2 linked regions of the Homo sapiens genome follow. Changing the gene in region 1 together with any one later gene gives a genetic interaction. Each region holds a gene or a part of one and is shown in the gene's direction. Other genes may lie near its edges.

Evidence for each region.
Region 2: changes in VPS51 (region 1) and NRAS together harm fitness more than expected from each alone (negative genetic interaction), as found in Homo sapiens cells (one study listed by BioGRID).

Annotation. Positions count from the first base shown.
Region 1 is NC_000011.10:65,104,537-65,112,362, forward strand, and holds the end of VPS51 (vacuolar protein sorting-associated protein 51 homolog), read left to right. Parts: intron 1-3,044; coding exon 3,045-3,191; intron 3,192-3,266; coding exon 3,267-3,486; exon of another isoform or gene 3,487-3,488; intron 3,489-3,660; coding exon 3,661-4,378; intron 4,379-4,743; coding exon 4,744-4,959; intron 4,960-5,168; coding exon 5,169-5,387; intron 5,388-5,945; coding exon 5,946-6,067; intron 6,068-6,157; coding exon 6,158-6,245; intron 6,246-6,790; coding exon 6,791-7,051; 3' UTR 7,052-7,326; downstream 7,327-7,826. Other genes in the region: delta(14)-sterol reductase TM7SF2, read left to right, coding at 7,480-7,531. UniProt on the Homo sapiens protein: Acts as a component of the GARP complex that is involved in retrograde transport from early and late endosomes to the trans-Golgi network (TGN).
Region 2 is NC_000001.11:114,713,772-114,722,296, reverse strand, and holds the start of NRAS (GTPase NRas), read left to right. Parts: upstream 1-5,525; 5' UTR 5,526-5,639; intron 5,640-6,119; 5' UTR 6,120-6,136; coding exon 6,137-6,247; intron 6,248-8,318; coding exon 8,319-8,497; intron 8,498-8,525. Other genes in the region: CSDE1 (cold shock domain-containing protein E1), read left to right, coding at 1,580-1,758, 2,555-2,718, 3,552-3,684, 4,081-4,128. UniProt on the Homo sapiens protein: Ras proteins bind GDP/GTP and possess intrinsic GTPase activity.

The DNA of each region.
Region 1 (7,826 bases):
GAGATCCTCTAATTTTGAGTCATCCTGGCATTCATGAAACAAAAACCCTTTTGTGTTTATCAATTATTATTTTAATATGCTGCTGGATTTTGTTTGCTTATTTGTGCATCTCCATTTGTTTATTTAATTCATCCTTGCATCTCCATTCATAAGAGATATGAATGTGTATATGTGAGGTATTTCTGTTATGTTTTCATAACAGTGTTATGTTTGTTCCATCAAGTTTGTGTGAGAGCTGTTCTCGTTTCTCTGCTGGGGCAGTGTTTACACAGAGAATTGGAAGGCGCTGTCCTTCAAGCCGCCGCAACACCCCTGGACATCTGGGCCAGATGCCTTTGTGTGGAGGGGAAAGGGGAGTAGGACCTTTCTTTCACAACATTCTCTAGTTTTTCTGTTTCTGTTTTCTTGTTTTTTGCAATCCATTTTGGTAAATCCTATTTTTGTAGCAAATTATCCATTTCATCCATAGAATTCACCAAGCCCTTACCAATTTAGTGTTTTCTTGGTATTTTACCCATGCTGCAATTTCAGTTTTGATTTCCTTTTCTGACCTCATAATTGGTTAACAATGAGGTTTTTTCGACTGGGCACGGTGGCTCCCGCCTGTAATCCCAGCACTTTGGGAGGCCGAGGCGGGTGGATCACTTGAGGTCAGAGACCAGTCTGGCCAACATGGTGAAACCCTCTCTACTAAAAGTACAAAAATTAGCCAGGCATGGTGGCACGTGCCTGTAATCCCAGCTACTCGGGGCTGAGGCAGGAGAATCGCTTGAACCCAGGAGGTGGAGGTTGCAGTGAGCTGAGATCGCGCCACTGCACTGCAGCCTGGGCGACGGAGGGAGACCCTGTCTCAAAAAAAAAAAAAGAATGAGGTTTTTTTCTTTGTGATCTACCATATGGAAAGGTTTGTATATATTTTATGGCATTGTTTGGGAAAAATGCAAACTGTGTGCTTCCTATGCTCTCACATCACCACAATCATGACCACAGAAGAGTTCTGTGACCAAATGTGTTGGGTTTCTTCCCCACACACCAAGCAGCAGACACCCGCTGGGTGTCCTCTGATTTAATTCCAACACTATTTACCCAGAGATAGCATCAGATTCCATGAGTTGAGGGCTGAGTCCCCAAGCCTGCCTCCCTTCAGGCACTAGTTCAGTCCCAAATCTGCCTCCCCACTTTCAGGCACTAGCTGCAGGTCAGGGCCTCAGGCCTCCAGAATTTCTGACCAACTGGCTCCAGGTAGGGGTTTCCATAACTCCCTCTTTGGGCTCAGTTTGCTGGAGTGGCTCACAGAGCTCAGGATAACACATTTACCAGTTTATTACAAAGGATGTTACAAAGGGTACAGATGAGCAGGTGCATAGGGCGAGGTGTAGGAGAAGGAGCATGGAGTTTCCATGCCCTCCCCGGGCGTGCCACCCTCCAGGAGCCTCCAGAGCTGAGATCGCGCCACTGCACTCCAGCCTGGGTGACAGAGTGAGACTCTTTCTCAAACAAAACAAAACCAAAATATCTCCTGTTACAGATACACATTTCTGTCTTATCCTCTTCGCCTTTCTTTATGAACATTGTTGGTATGTTCAATGGAATTAGGGAAATTAGTTGGGAAATGTTGGCAGTTGTTGGACAAGAGATGATAGTGGCTTACAAAGAAAATGTTGCAGGTAGACCTTCCATGACTTGGTAATGGATTGATTACTAGGTATATTAATCCAGGTTCATACTGCTGTAAAGAACTGCCCGAGACTAGGTAACTTATAAAGGAAAGAGGTTTAATTGACTCACAGTTCACAGCATGGCTGGGGAGGCCTCAGGAAACTTACAATCATGGCAGAAGGTGAAAGAGAAGCAAGGCATCTTCTTCACAAGGCAGCAGGAAGGAGAAGTGTTAAGCGAAGCAGGGAGAGCCCCTTATAAAACCATCAGACCTCGTCGGGTGCGGTGGCTCATGCCTGTAATCCCAGCACTTTGGGAGGCCAAGGTGGGCGGATCATGAGGTCAGGAGATCAAGACCATCCTGGCTAACATGGTGAAACTCCATCTCTACTAAAAATACAAAAAATTAGCTGGGTGTGGTGGCAGGCACCTGTAGTCCCAGCTACTTGGGAGGCTGAGGCAGGAGAATGGTGTGAACCTGGGAATTGGAGTTTGCAGTGAGCAGAGGTCGTGCCACTGCACTCCAGTCTGGGCGACAGAGCGAGACTCAGTCTCAAAAAAAAAAAAAAAGAATAGGTGGAATTGAATTGAGGCCGTCAGTGAACAGTCAGGAACATTGGAAGGCTCATCCATGTGGATGTGCACAAGGAGGTGACAGGAGGAGGAGAAGAGGCAGTGATGGGGAACTGAGAGGAGTGTCAGAGGACAGTAGAGACAGCAAAGAGGAGGGTTGTGGCTTGATGGCATGGTCTTCCTAGAAGCCGGGGTTTTGAAGAGAGGAGATCTAGGCATGATTTAGAAGCATGAAGGGACCAGGCTCCCAGGCACCTGGTGTGTGAAAGGAAAAACAGCCTCCCTAGGCAGGATTCTATCAGGACCAAAGGGAAAGGGCCCTTCAGAGAAGACAGCCCATGTTCCGGAAAGCATGTGAAAGGCTTTGGGAGGTCTGGAAAGGAGATGAGGGTCAACAAGAATGTATTGCCTCATCCAGGCAGTGCGCTGGACACGCAGATGCGCTTGGGAGCCAGCGGTCCCTGCCTTGGCTGCTTGTGGTCTGATGGAGCAGTTGAGGCACAGTGGTGGCAGCTGGCTAAGCACCTGCGGCCTGCTTCGGATCTGGACTAATTCTGAGGGCCGGCTCTCCTGGGCACCAGGGTTAGGGGGTTACGGGGAGTATGTGAGTAACGCCTGCTTTGGGAACATAAACCCCCTCCCCCGCCCCCATGTGCGCTGTGACCCACGCCCTCGCAGTCCTTTCTCTGGAATCATCCATGCGCCCCTGGAGCAAGCTGGGGCGTCTGTGAAGGGGTGGGTGAGAAGGAGCTGAGGTTGCGCCCGCCCTGCAGTCACCTGCTCTCCCCTTTTCCCCGCCCCTGCCCTCCTAGACACCATCCGGAAGATGAAGAACGATTTCCGGAAGATGGAGGATGAGATGGACCGGCTGGCCACCAACATGGCAGTGATCACCGACTTCAGCGCTCGCATCAGCGCCACGCTGCAGGACCGCCACGAGCGCATCACCAAGCTGGCAGGTGGGCGCTGCCGGGCAGGGCCTGCAGTGGGCCTTTCCTGGGGCTCTGGGGCTAACGTCACCCTCCGTCCCCCAGGGGTCCACGCGCTGCTGCGGAAGCTGCAGTTCCTCTTTGAGCTGCCCTCGCGCCTCACCAAGTGCGTGGAACTGGGCGCCTATGGGCAGGCGGTGCGCTACCAGGGCCGCGCGCAGGCCGTGCTGCAGCAGTACCAACACCTGCCCTCGTTCCGCGCCATCCAGGACGACTGCCAGGTCATCACGGCCCGCCTGGCCCAGCAGCTGCGGCAGCGCTTTAGGTGTGGCCCCTCTGCCCTGACCCCAGCGCTCCCGCCAGCCCCGAGCCCCATCTGTGCCCGGCTCCTGGGCCCTCCTGGAGCTGTCCCCCTGCCCTGTGTGTGCTTTGCTTTCCTGCTCCTGCCCCATCCACCGGCAGCCCCGGCCCTGCCCTTCACTACCTCTCCCTCGTGCAGGGAGGGCGGCTCAGGCGCCCCGGAGCAGGCAGAGTGCGTGGAGCTGCTGCTGGCCCTGGGCGAGCCTGCGGAGGAGCTGTGCGAGGAGTTCCTGGCGCACGCCCGCGGCCGGCTGGAGAAGGAGCTGAGAAACCTGGAGGCCGAGCTGGGGCCCTCACCTCCGGCTCCCGACGTGTTAGAGTTCACCGACCATGGAGGCAGTGGCTTCGTGGGCGGCCTCTGCCAGGTGGCGGCGGCCTACCAGGAGCTGTTTGCGGCCCAGGGCCCAGCAGGTGCCGAGAAGCTGGCGGCCTTCGCCCGGCAGCTGGGCAGCCGCTATTTTGCGCTGGTGGAGCGGCGGCTGGCGCAGGAGCAGGGTGGTGGTGACAACTCACTGCTGGTGCGGGCGCTGGACCGCTTCCACCGGCGCTTGCGGGCTCCCGGGGCCCTGCTGGCCGCTGCCGGGCTCGCAGACGCTGCCACGGAGATCGTGGAACGAGTGGCCCGCGAGCGCCTGGGCCACCACCTGCAGGGTCTCCGGGCGGCCTTCCTGGGCTGCCTGACAGACGTCCGCCAGGCGCTGGCAGCACCTCGCGTGGCTGGGAAGGAGGGCCCTGGCCTGGCCGAGTTGCTGGCCAATGTGGCCAGCTCCATCCTGAGCCACATTAAGGCCTCTCTGGCAGCAGTGCACCTTTTCACCGCCAAAGAGGTGTCCTTCTCCAACAAGCCCTACTTCCGGGTACGCCTCCTCTTGGGTGTTCCTTGTTCAACCTGCTGGTTGACCCTCCAAAACCTTTTATGCCAGTGCTTGGGAAACTGGGGAAACCAGGCACTCTGGGTGTGGTTTCAGGTTCTTATGCACGGTCTGGGGGGTGGGGAAGGCTCAGGGCATCTGCAGCTGGGCTGAGAAGCAGGGCATGGTGGGGTCCCCAGTGTTGGCTTTCTCTGCCCCCACTCAGGGAAGCTGCTCCGGGGTACTTAGAATGTAGGATGATGCTGTCCCTTGCAGAGGGGGCTGGGGCACTTAGAGCCCCAGCAGAGGGTCATTAACAGCCTTACCTGGAAGAGGGGACCTGCTGTGGACCTGGGCACCTTCTCTTGCAGGGTGAGTTCTGCAGTCAGGGTGTCCGTGAGGGCCTCATCGTGGGCTTCGTCCACTCTATGTGCCAGACGGCTCAGAGCTTCTGCGACAGCCCTGGGGAGAAGGGGGGTGCCACACCACCTGCCCTGCTCCTGCTGCTCTCCCGCCTCTGCCTGGACTACGAGACGGCCACCATCTCCTACATCCTCACTCTCACTGATGAACAGTTTCTGGTGCAGGTGAAGCACTAGCTCCTAGCCGGGCAGGGAATGGTGTTGCTGGGAATGCAGATGGCTGGACAGTGCCCTCATGGCCAGACCCCAGACCAGCTGCCTGTGTGTACCCCAGCCTCCACCTTGCCCAATCTGTGCCCAGCTCCTGGTTGGCAGTGGCCCCTGAGCTGCCCCCACCATACCCACTCCCTCTGTCCTCTGCCTCCTTGGCTCAGGATCAGTTCCCAGTGACGCCCGTGAGCACGCTGTGTGCAGAGGCCAGGGAAACGGCGCGGCGGCTGCTGACCCACTACGTGAAGGTGCAGGGCCTGGTCATATCACAGATGCTGCGCAAGAGCGTGGAGACTCGCGACTGGCTCAGCACTCTGGAGCCCCGGAATGTGCGGGCCGTCATGAAGCGGGTGGTGGAGGATACCACCGCCATCGACGTGCAGGTGCTGCCCAGGCTGGCCGGGGTAGCCCTGACGCAGGCTGGGGGTACTGTCCCTTCAAGAGGGGCTGGGGCAGCAGAGGATCACTGGCAGTCCCTGCCTGGAGGAGGGGACATGTGTATCTGGGCTTCTCACGGGGCCAGTTCTGTAGCCAGGGCGTCCGTGAGGGAACCCCAGGGGAACAAGTCTCCAAGGATGAAGACCAAACGGGCTGGGGAGTGCCTATGTCCACGGTCTTGTTCCTTCTCAGCCCAGGATTATGACATCTTCGCCCCTATTTTACCTGTGGAGAAGCAGAGGCTCAGGGTTACCCAGGAAGTCAGGGCAGGGTTGGTGCTGGTGCTGAAGATTAGACCTCAGACCAACTCTTGTATCCTGCCTTTGCCCCACTCCACTGGTTCTATAAATAGCGACCATGTACCTACTAAATAGCGGGCCCCGCGGTGATTACCCTGTGATCCTTGTGATGCTTGAGTAGCTGACTTAGGGCATCCTCAGCACCGATGGGCTGGTGGTTTCCCCTGACTCGGGCCTCCTTGCAGTACCTCTTTTTACCACCAGGTGGGGCTCCTGTACGAAGAGGGTGTTCGCAAGGCCCAGAGCAGCGACTCCAGCAAGAGGACTTTCTCCGTGTACAGCAGCTCTCGGCAGCAGGGCCGCTACGCCCCCAGCTATACCCCCAGGTCTGGCTGGTCAGGGGAGCCCCAGGGGGAAGGGACAAAAGAGGGCGAGGGTGCAGGGCGGGCTCTGATTCCTTGTCTTCCCCAATCCAGTGCCCCGATGGACACCAACCTCTTGAGCAATATCCAGAAGCTATTCTCTGAACGTATTGATGTGTTCAGCCCTGTGGAGTTCAACAAGGTCCGACTTCCAACGTGACTCAGACTTCCAGGGATCCCGGGGAGGGTTGGCTGGAGCAGCCCCACACCTGCCCAAGGAGCCCCAGGACTCTGTGACCAACTGGGGGTGACCCTGACCCTCCAGTCTCTGTCTCTAGGGCTGTTTTTAGGTAGTACAGAGTGCCCTGCCTCCAAATCCCACAGCCCTTGTCCCAGTCTTGGTGTATGCCCAGCCTGAGTCTGGGTGCTGACCTGGGATTACTGTTTGCCCTTGTCCTTATCCCCACAGTAGTCTTGGGTCCTCCCCAGGGTTTTCTGTTCACCCATGGTCCCTGCCCCGCCTCACTCCAAGCTCAGGGATGCCTCTGATTGCTGGGCCCTACCTGTCCCCTGCCCTCCAGATGACGGCGCTAATATTGTATCCCTCCCTTCTTATCTGGCCCCGGAGACTTTCTGCCTCATCCCAGCTACTTCCATCGTATGTCTCCCGGGCCCCTGCTTGGAACTTGGGTGTCCCCCACACACACCTGCAGTCCCCAAGCTGCATCCCTGTGTCCCTGCCTGCAGGTGTCGGTGCTGACCGGCATCATCAAGATCAGCCTGAAGACGCTGCTGGAGTGTGTGCGGCTGCGCACCTTTGGGCGCTTCGGGCTGCAGCAGGTGCAAGTGGACTGCCACTTTCTGCAGCTCTACCTGTGGCGTTTTGTGGCCGACGAAGAACTCGTGCACTTGCTGCTGGACGAAGTGGTGGCCTCTGCTGCCCTGCGCTGCCCAGACCCTGTGCCCATGGAGCCCAGTGTGGTTGAGGTCATCTGCGAGCGCGGCTAGGCGCAGCCGCTGCCATGCACCGGTCTGTCCCTGCACCCCATGGCACCCAGGATCTGGTCTCGGTGGTCCTTCCCCGCAGGCAGGTGTCAGGACCGGCCTAATAAACATGTGTGGCCTCCTCCTCTCGCTTGCTGGGCGGGCCTTTCCGGGGGCGGGGTTTTGAAGCTGAGGCTTCTGAGGCGCCCGCGTCGGGTCCGCCCCCGAGCGCCGATTGGCTGGTGTGCTGGGCCCAGCATGGGCAGGGGGCGGTTCCACTTAAAAACCCTGGGACGAGAGCGGTCCTTGTCTGCGTTCCGTGTCCAGGCAGGTGCAGGCGCCGCGGGGCCGGATCCTCCGCGCGGCCGAGTCCATCTCCTGGGAAATGGGGCGGACAGTGTTTCCTTGACTGACTATTGTGAGCGCCCTCTCTCTCCGGCGGAGCGGAGACCATGGCCCCCACTCAGGGCCCCCGGGCCCCGCTGGAATTCGGAGGGCCCCTGGGTAATGGGGCAGAGAGATGGGACCTGGGGCAAAGGCTAAGCGAAGGAGAGCTGGAGCGGGTGAACTAAGAGCGGGGGCGAGATCTGAGGATGGAAGGCTTTGGGGGTGTCGGAGGCAGAGGGACCCGGGGGTTTGCAGCGAAGGGTGTCTGGAGAGGGAGAGCTGAGGAGGGGCCGGTTCTGGGGGCTGCAGAACGGGGATTTATGGTGTCGACTGGGAGCAGGAGGAGGGTCTTCGAGGGGCCTGGGGGCGGGGGACTAAGATGGACGCCTGGGAAGGGAACTGGGAGGCAGCG
Region 2 (8,525 bases), on another chromosome or scaffold:
ATATTGCATGAGGTCAGACCAGCTTCCTCTAATCACTCTTCCCATGACTTGATCTCTTTGGATTATCTCCTCAAAGTTTTTTGGTTCCTGTATTTAAAATTAAAAGTCAGCTGGGGTCGAGAGTAGGGGCTCACACCTGTAATCCCAGCACTTTGGGAAGCCAAGGCAGGCAGATCACCTGAAGGTCAGGAGTTCGAGACCAGCCTGGCCAACATGGCGAAACCCTGTCTCTCCTAAAAATACAAAAATTAGCCAGGTATCATGGTGGGTGCCTATAATCCCAGCTACTTCAGAGGCTGAGGCAGGAGAATCACTTGAACCTGGGAGGCGGAAGTTGCAGTGAGCTGAATCATGCCACTGAACTCCAGCCTGGTTAACAGAGCATGACTCCGTCTCAAAAAAAAAAAAAAAAGTCAGGTGTGGTGGCTCACACCTGTAAACCCAACACTTCGGGAGGCCAAGGTGGGCAGATCACTTGAGCCCAGGAGTTTGAGACCAGCCTGGGCAACATGGCAAAACCCTGTCTCTACAAAAAATGCAAAAATTAGCCAGTCATGGTGTGTGCCTGTAGTCCCAGCGACTCAGGAGCTGAGGTGGGAGGATCACCCGAGCCCAGGAAATCAAGGCTGCAGTGAGCCGTTGATCGCCACTGCACTCCAGCCTGGGTAGCAGAGCGAGACCCTGTCTCAACAATAACAATGACAAAAATTCTTCACTTACCCTGTAATCATCAAGAGGATGGTTAGAAGCTTCTGCTTCCCACCTGTTTTTCTCATGTTTTCCACTATTGTTGACTGAGTACATTTGCCTGGATGCTGAAAATTGTTAGGCAGCTGAATTCTTTGGCATAGTTTTTATCTGTAGCCTGCACCGGGCTCCAGGCAACTTCATACTGTAGGGCAGGGCTCAGCATATATGGTGGCCTTTTCTTGTGATCACAGCCACAACCATTTGTTTACATATTGTTTTTCGTTGCTTTCTCACTACAACAGCAGAGTTGGTTAGACAGGATGACTTGCAAACCTAAAATAATACTCTCCGGCCCTTTAGGAAAATGGTTTTTGGTCTCTGATCTGGAAAAAGGAACCTATGTGAGGGAGCCAGAATTCGAACAAAAAAAAAGGAGGTGGGGTGTCAAATTTATCTAAATTGTTTTTGCCTGTGCCCGCCTAGTTGTTTACTGGCTCATTGAGTATGGGACAAAAGTATTTTTGGTTGGCTCATATTGTGAACTTGGGAAGAAGATAGTCCTGTGAATATTGGCAACCCATAGTGCTTAAAATTTAGGCAATGGGATTGTAAATGACAGTATTTTTTGTTTTAATTTATAAATGCAGTTTAAAATTGTTCATCAGCTAATAAAGTACTGATGGGAGCTGTGACATTCTCATTTGGTTCCATGGTAGTATTTAACATTTAGGATTTCATTTAAGCTTTAAGGTGAAACTTCTGAGTACTGAAAATGTAAATATATTTTAAGTAACATAACACATTTTTAGCAGTTATATAAACTTCCTAGGGTCATCAGCAGAGGACTGTTGTGAAATACTAGCTTTTAGACTTTGTACCTGTTTTACAGGCGATATGAAAGGTGAGGTCTATCCATTTGGCATCGTTGGGATGGCCAACAAAGGGGATTGCCTGCAGAAAGGGGAGAGCGTCAAGTTCCAATTGTGTGTCCTGGGCCAAAATGCACAAACTATGGCTTACAACATCACACCCCTGCGCAGGGCCACAGTGGAATGTGTGAAAGATCAGGTAAGTGCCAGCATCTCTGTATCTGAATTTGATCCTTCTATGAGTTGGTAACCAAAACCTTCAAATATTTTCAGCCAAGGGGAAATCATCAACATTCATTCGTTTTTTTATTTCTACTTCACCTTTTTTCAGTCATTTGAGGTAGCTTAATAAAAACAGAAAACTACACAAAAAGTGACTATATTAGCAATGAGAAAGTAAGATTGGTATTAGTAACTAATATTATGCAATGGGGAAAATAAGTTAGGGGTGAGATTTCCAGAATAGAAGGACTATATGGTTTTGTACACTTTTGCTTAGAGCTTCTTTTGCATATCACACAAACACAGAAACCACGTTCAAAAGTACTTAAAAAATAAGCTTAGGGCAAACAAACTTAGTCTTACTCCTGAGATCTCAGGGAAATCTGAGTCCTCAGAATGTTTTTCATCAGTACAGAGAATAATAACATTTTGTATGGCTGCTACTATAACCCAGCTTAATTCTAGAGGGGATCCAAACAATATATATGTTGAAGTAACAGCTTCCTGATGAGTTTGCTTAATTCAAAAAGCTTAGTTCATAATATACGAAGGAACAAGGCAAGTTTTATTTGTTTGGTTCAAGTTTGTGATATAGTGAATGGCACTTTCAGAGATACATTTCTTCCCTGACAGGTTTTGCCACAGGCAGCTGGACTGGAGTATCAACATTAATACCATGTTTTATACATCCTTTTAGATAGGGGCAGGCATTGTGCTTCATTCAGAGTGAGGTGTGGCATGCCCTCTCTTTTTTACCTACTTTTTTTTTTCAGTTTGGCTTCATTAACTATGAAGTAGGAGATAGCAAGAAGCTCTTTTTCCATGTGAAAGAAGTTCAGGATGGCATTGAGCTACAGGCAGGAGATGAGGTGGAGTTCTCAGTGATTCTTAATCAGCGCACTGGCAAGTGCAGCGCCTGTAATGTTTGGCGAGTCTGGTGAGTTTTGTTGTTGTGGTTTGATTAGTAACTACCCTGGAGTGTCTCAACTTTATAGTCTCTGTTTTGTCACATCACTTTTCTGTGCCTTGTCTTCTGCCACTTATTATTTCTTGATACTTCCTACTTCTAGTTGAATACAAAAAGATTGTTTAGTACATGTTTTTTAAAATTTTTGCCAAATTCTTCTTCTTCCATTAAGTCATTTCTAGGTTATATGCTACTTAAAATTCTAATAGTTTAGCCATGCTGATTCATAATGCCGCTTTGCTTCCCCAGAGACAGTCTCACAGTCTGATTCGGTTACCCAGGCGCTATCACGACTCACTGCAGACTCAACCCCCTGGGCCTAAGCAATTCTCCCACGTCAGCTTCCCCAGTAGCTGGGACTACAAGCATGCGCCACCACATGCAGCCAATTTTATTTTTTGTAGAGACATGGTCCCACTGTTTTGCCCAGGCTGATCTCGAACTTCTGGGCTCAAGTGTTCCTCCTGCCCTGTCCTCTCAAAGCGCTGGGATTACAGGTGTTAGCTACCACATCTGCTACCTTGTTTTTTTATGCATCTGTGGAACTGGTCACTCTTGATTGCATTCAAGTCTAGGGTCTGCAAATGATTCCTTCCATTCCTATTAAGTTGGGACCTTGAGTTGGGGATAATAATACATAAACAAACTTGTCTGTCCTGTCTTTCTAGCTAGGTATATGAGGCAAGAGTCCCATCATAAAAAGTGAGTCATTTGGGCAGTTAGGTGGAAAACACACTCCTTTGCAAGTGCTTGCTGTCTGCCCACCAAGTGTGGTTTCTTCTCATCTTTTGACTTAATTACAGTGAGGGCCCCAAGGCTGTTGCAGCTCCTCGACCTGATCGGTTGGTCAATCGCTTGAAGAATATCACTCTGGATGATGCCAGTGCTCCTCGCCTAATGGTTCTTCGTCAGCCAAGGGGACCAGATAACTCAATGGTATGAGGGCATACAAGGCTTGGGGGAGGCCAACTGATAGACCAACATAAAATATGTGGTCCTATTTAAACAATAGGTCAGGAAACTTAATGAAGCAGGGAGACTTCCATATTGCTTATAACTAGTTAGGACTTTCTACACATTGGTTCAGCCCCCTAACCTAATGGTTGCTTACAGTAAGAAGCACATTTCTTTTCTTGATGCTTTGAAGACAGTTTAGGTAATGAATGGGTCAGGAGTGCTTACTGTGGATTTTCTCCTCTAGGAAAGAATTAGTACTGCATAAGATGATTAAAAATAATGCTTTTGTAGTTTCATTTCGGAATAGTGAATGTACTATGATTGTTGTGCGCTCAAATCATTAACTGCAGGGTTTTTTTTTTCTCCCCCCCACAGGGGTTTGGTGCAGAAAGAAAGATCCGTCAAGCTGGTGTCATTGACTAACCACATCCACAAAGCACACCATTAATCCACTATGATCAAGTTGGGGGGAATCTGGTGAAGGGTTCTGAATATCTCCCTCTTCATCCCTCCCGAAATCTGGAATACTTATTCTATTGAGCTATTACACCAGTTTTAACACCTTCCTCGTGTTATGTTTAAAAAAATAAATAAATTTAAGAAAACCATTTTAAATAATGCACAGTTGCAGCCTGGAAAAACTTAAGGTGGCGCCTTATAGTATCAATTTTAGGAGCTTTATTTGGTGCATTTAACGCAACTGGTAATTGCAGAATCCACTTTGCCTGTGTAAGTGAAAAATATAGACTGTTATCTTGTTGGCCCTATGAAATTCTGCACTTTTCATTATATACTCTACCTTCATTAATTACTTCTGGCAAGATGTTCTGCCTTAGCACTCAGTTGCATTCTTTTCCTTTTTCTTCCTGTTCATTATGCTTTAATTCTGAGGACCATATGAGGGTAGAATATATTATCTTTTAAAAATTACAAAAATTTGTATAGGCAAACCATTTCTTAAAGTTGATGGCCAAATTTTAAAATGTTATTTTTCATATCATTTATAATCTTGTCACAATCCACTTAAAGAAGTTTGGTTATATTTCAGTGAAAATTTTCTTCCAGAGTAGGTTTTTTTTCGTGGGTTGGGGGGTAACTTTACTACAATTAGTAAGTATGGTGCAGAATTTCATGCAAATGAGGAGTGCCAGCAGTGTGATAATTTAAACATATTTAAACAAAAACAAAAAAAATGAATGCACAAACTTGCTGCTGCTTAGATCACTGCAGCTTCTAGGACCCGGTTTCTTTTACTGATTTAAAAACAAAACAAAAAAAAATAAAAAAGTTGTGCCTGAAATGAATCTTGTTTTTTTTTATAAGTAGCCGCCTGGTTACTGTGTCCTGTAAAATACAGACACTTGACCCTTGGTGTAGCTTCTGTTCAACTTTATATCACGGGAATGGATGGGTCTGATTTCTTGGCCCTCTTCTTGAATTGGCCATATACAGGGTCCCTGGCCAGTGGACTGAAGGCTTTGTCTAAGATGACAAGGGTCAGCTCAGGGGATGTGGGGGAGGGCGGTTTTATCTTCCCCCTTGTCGTTTGAGGTTTTGATCTCTGGGTAAAGAGGCCGTTTATCTTTGTAAACACGAAACATTTTTGCTTTCTCCAGTTTTCTGTTAATGGCGAAAGAATGGAAGCGAATAAAGTTTTACTGATTTTTGAGACACTAGCACCTAGCGCTTTCATTATTGAAACGTCCCGTGTGGGAGGGGCGGGTCTGGGTGCGGCCTGCCGCATGACTCGTGGTTCGGAGGCCCACGTGGCCGGGGCGGGGACTCAGGCGCCTGGGGCGCCGACTGATTACGTAGCGGGCGGGGCCGGAAGTGCCGCTCCTTGGTGGGGGCTGTTCATGGCGGTTCCGGGGTCTCCAACATTTTTCCCGGCTGTGGTCCTAAATCTGTCCAAAGCAGAGGCAGTGGAGCTTGAGGTAAGTTTATCTCATGCATAGTGTTCGGCTTTGGGCTGTGGAATGTTCAGGCGTTTCACTGATGCCAGAAATGGAGCAGAATCTATCAGCTGGAGACAAAGGCCTTGGGCGGGGGTCCTTCCATTTGGTGCCTACGTGGGGAGATCTTTGGAGACAGAAGGGAGAATGGGAAGGAGTTGCGGCCTGGAGGCTTCCTGCTAGAGCTGAGAAGCCTTCGGGGAGTAATAGGAAGGGGGATTTCCATTGCTTAGGCTGAGGGCGGGGCCCAAGGACTGTTGAAAAATAGCTAAGGATGGGGGTTGCTAGAAAACTACTCCAGAAGTGTGAGGCCGATATTAATCCGGTGTTTTTGCGTTCTCTAGTCACTTTAAGAACCAAATGGAAGGTCACACTAGGGTTTTCATTTCCATTGATTATAGAAAGCTTTAAAGTACTGTAGATGTGGCTCGCCAATTAACCCTGATTACTGGTTTCCAACAGGTTCTTGCTGGTGTGAAATGACTGAGTACAAACTGGTGGTGGTTGGAGCAGGTGGTGTTGGGAAAAGCGCACTGACAATCCAGCTAATCCAGAACCACTTTGTAGATGAATATGATCCCACCATAGAGGTGAGGCCCAGTGGTAGCCCGCTGACCTGATCCTGTCTCTCACTTGTCGGATCATCTTTACCCATATTCTGTATTAAAGGAATAAGAGGAGAGAAAGTAAAAAGTTATTTTGGGTATACATTCAGTTATGCAATAAGCTTAACGTGTTTATAGAGAACAGTTCATTTTTATTAGCTGCTGAAGTTTCTAAAACCTGTCCAGTTTTTAACAGTTCTGTAAACTATTGCAAACTCAGTGTTGAGTTCATTCATGAGTTTCTTCATATATAACAGCTCTATTACATGAGAAACACAGGCCATAGTAGCGAGACTGTCTGATTGTATGGGAGATAATAGGATGGAGATAAAGGATTCAGAGATGAGTGTTCTTCAATATTTATTTATTAGCTAGTTGAAGCAGCTGAGACCAGATGATTGGAGTAGCAAGAACTTGAGATTTTTAGTCTTTATGCCTAGGATTTTGGTCCCTGTTTGCAGTTTATTTAGTTGTGTGATATTGAGCAACTGAATCTCTCCCAACCTCATTTTCCTCATGTTTTAAATTACCATAAACTTGTCCTGCCTACCACACAGGGATGTTATGGAAAGTTAAATAATATATTTAAGTTATTTATGAATGGTAAAGCACTATGTAATAGTACTTAGGGATTCTATTGTTATTATGAGAGTTCATGGTACAGATTGTCTTCAGTAAGTGGCACCTAAGGCTCTTTAAATAAAGGGTTTTGCCGGACACGGTGGCTCACGCCTGTAATCCCAGCACTTTGGGAGGCTGAGGCAGGCGGATCACAAGGTCAGGAGTTCAAGACCAGCCTGATCAACATGGTGAAACCCCGTCTCTACTAAAAATACAAAAATTAGCTGGGTGTGGTGGCAGGCACCTGTAATCCCAGCTACTCAGGAGGCTGAGGCAGGAGAATCGCTTGAACCAGAGGCAGAGGGTGCAGTGAGCCGAGATCACACCACAGACCTCCAGCCTGGGCAACAGAGCGAGACTTCGTCTCAAAAAATAAATAAATAGATAAATAAATAAAGGGTTTTGTAATTTTGTTCAGTTTAGAAATGCCTAACTTTAGAGATTATTTTAATCAACACCTGGCCTCCCTACCATCTGGCTACTCGTGTTTAATTGATGAAAACTAACTCTAATGTAGCCACTATAAAAAATTGGTTGCTAACCCTTGGCAAAATCTTTATTTTGAGCTTAACAGCTTTAATATTTTACATGAAATGTTTAATATTTTAATTAAATATTTTTAAATGTTTGATTTATTGAGCAATTTACATAAGTAAAATACATAAATTTTATGTCTACAGCCCAGTGCTTTTTGCGTTTCTATATAGTCATGTAGCTACCACCCAGATAACAGTATAGAGCACTTCCAGTACTCCAGAGAGTTCTCCAAGTGTGATGACATTAAAATACAAGTAAAAGTCCTGTTGCCATAAAACCAAAATGAAAGTATTTTTTATATGATCTATGCATGTTTGTCTTCCTGAGAAATTAAACATAACTATACCTTGTTTGGAACCTTTAAGAATTTGATTCAGGAATATTTCCCAAAGGTACATCTGTCATGATAAAAAAAAAACCTTCTCTGAAACAAAGGTATTTGTATATTTAGTCATAAACACAAATGATGTATATAGGGCCAGGTTATAATTGGTGGAGGTATGTTTAGATTTCTTTAAGTAAAATAAACAGCACAAATAAAACAGTCCAGTTCATAGCTTAGTGAAATACACTGGGTACTTAATCTGTAGCCTCCTGGCTGCAGTAGAGTTGTCATTTGAGTTACTGTGTTTTCTTAATCTTTTCCAGGAACACAGTGACCATATTTCTTTTCTGCAGGCATATAGAATTTGGTGGGTTTTCTTTTATGTAGGGTGATATTGGATACTTTTTGTTTGTGATTATATATTAGCAATTTGAGGGACAAACCAGATAGGCAGAAATGGGCTTGAATAGTTAGATGCTTATTTAACCTTGGCAATAGCATTGCATTCCCTGTGGTTTTTAATAAAAATTGAACTTCCCTCCCTCCCTGCCCCCTTACCCTCCACACCCCCAGGATTCTTACAGAAAACAAGTGGTTATAGATGGTGAAACCTGTTTGTTGGACATACTGGATACAGCTGGACAAGAAGAGTACAGTGCCATGAGAGACCAATACATGAGGACAGGCGAAGGCTTCCTCTGTGTATTTGCCATCAATAATAGCAAGTCATTTGCGGATATTAACCTCTACAGGTACTAGGAGCATTATTTTCTCTGAAAG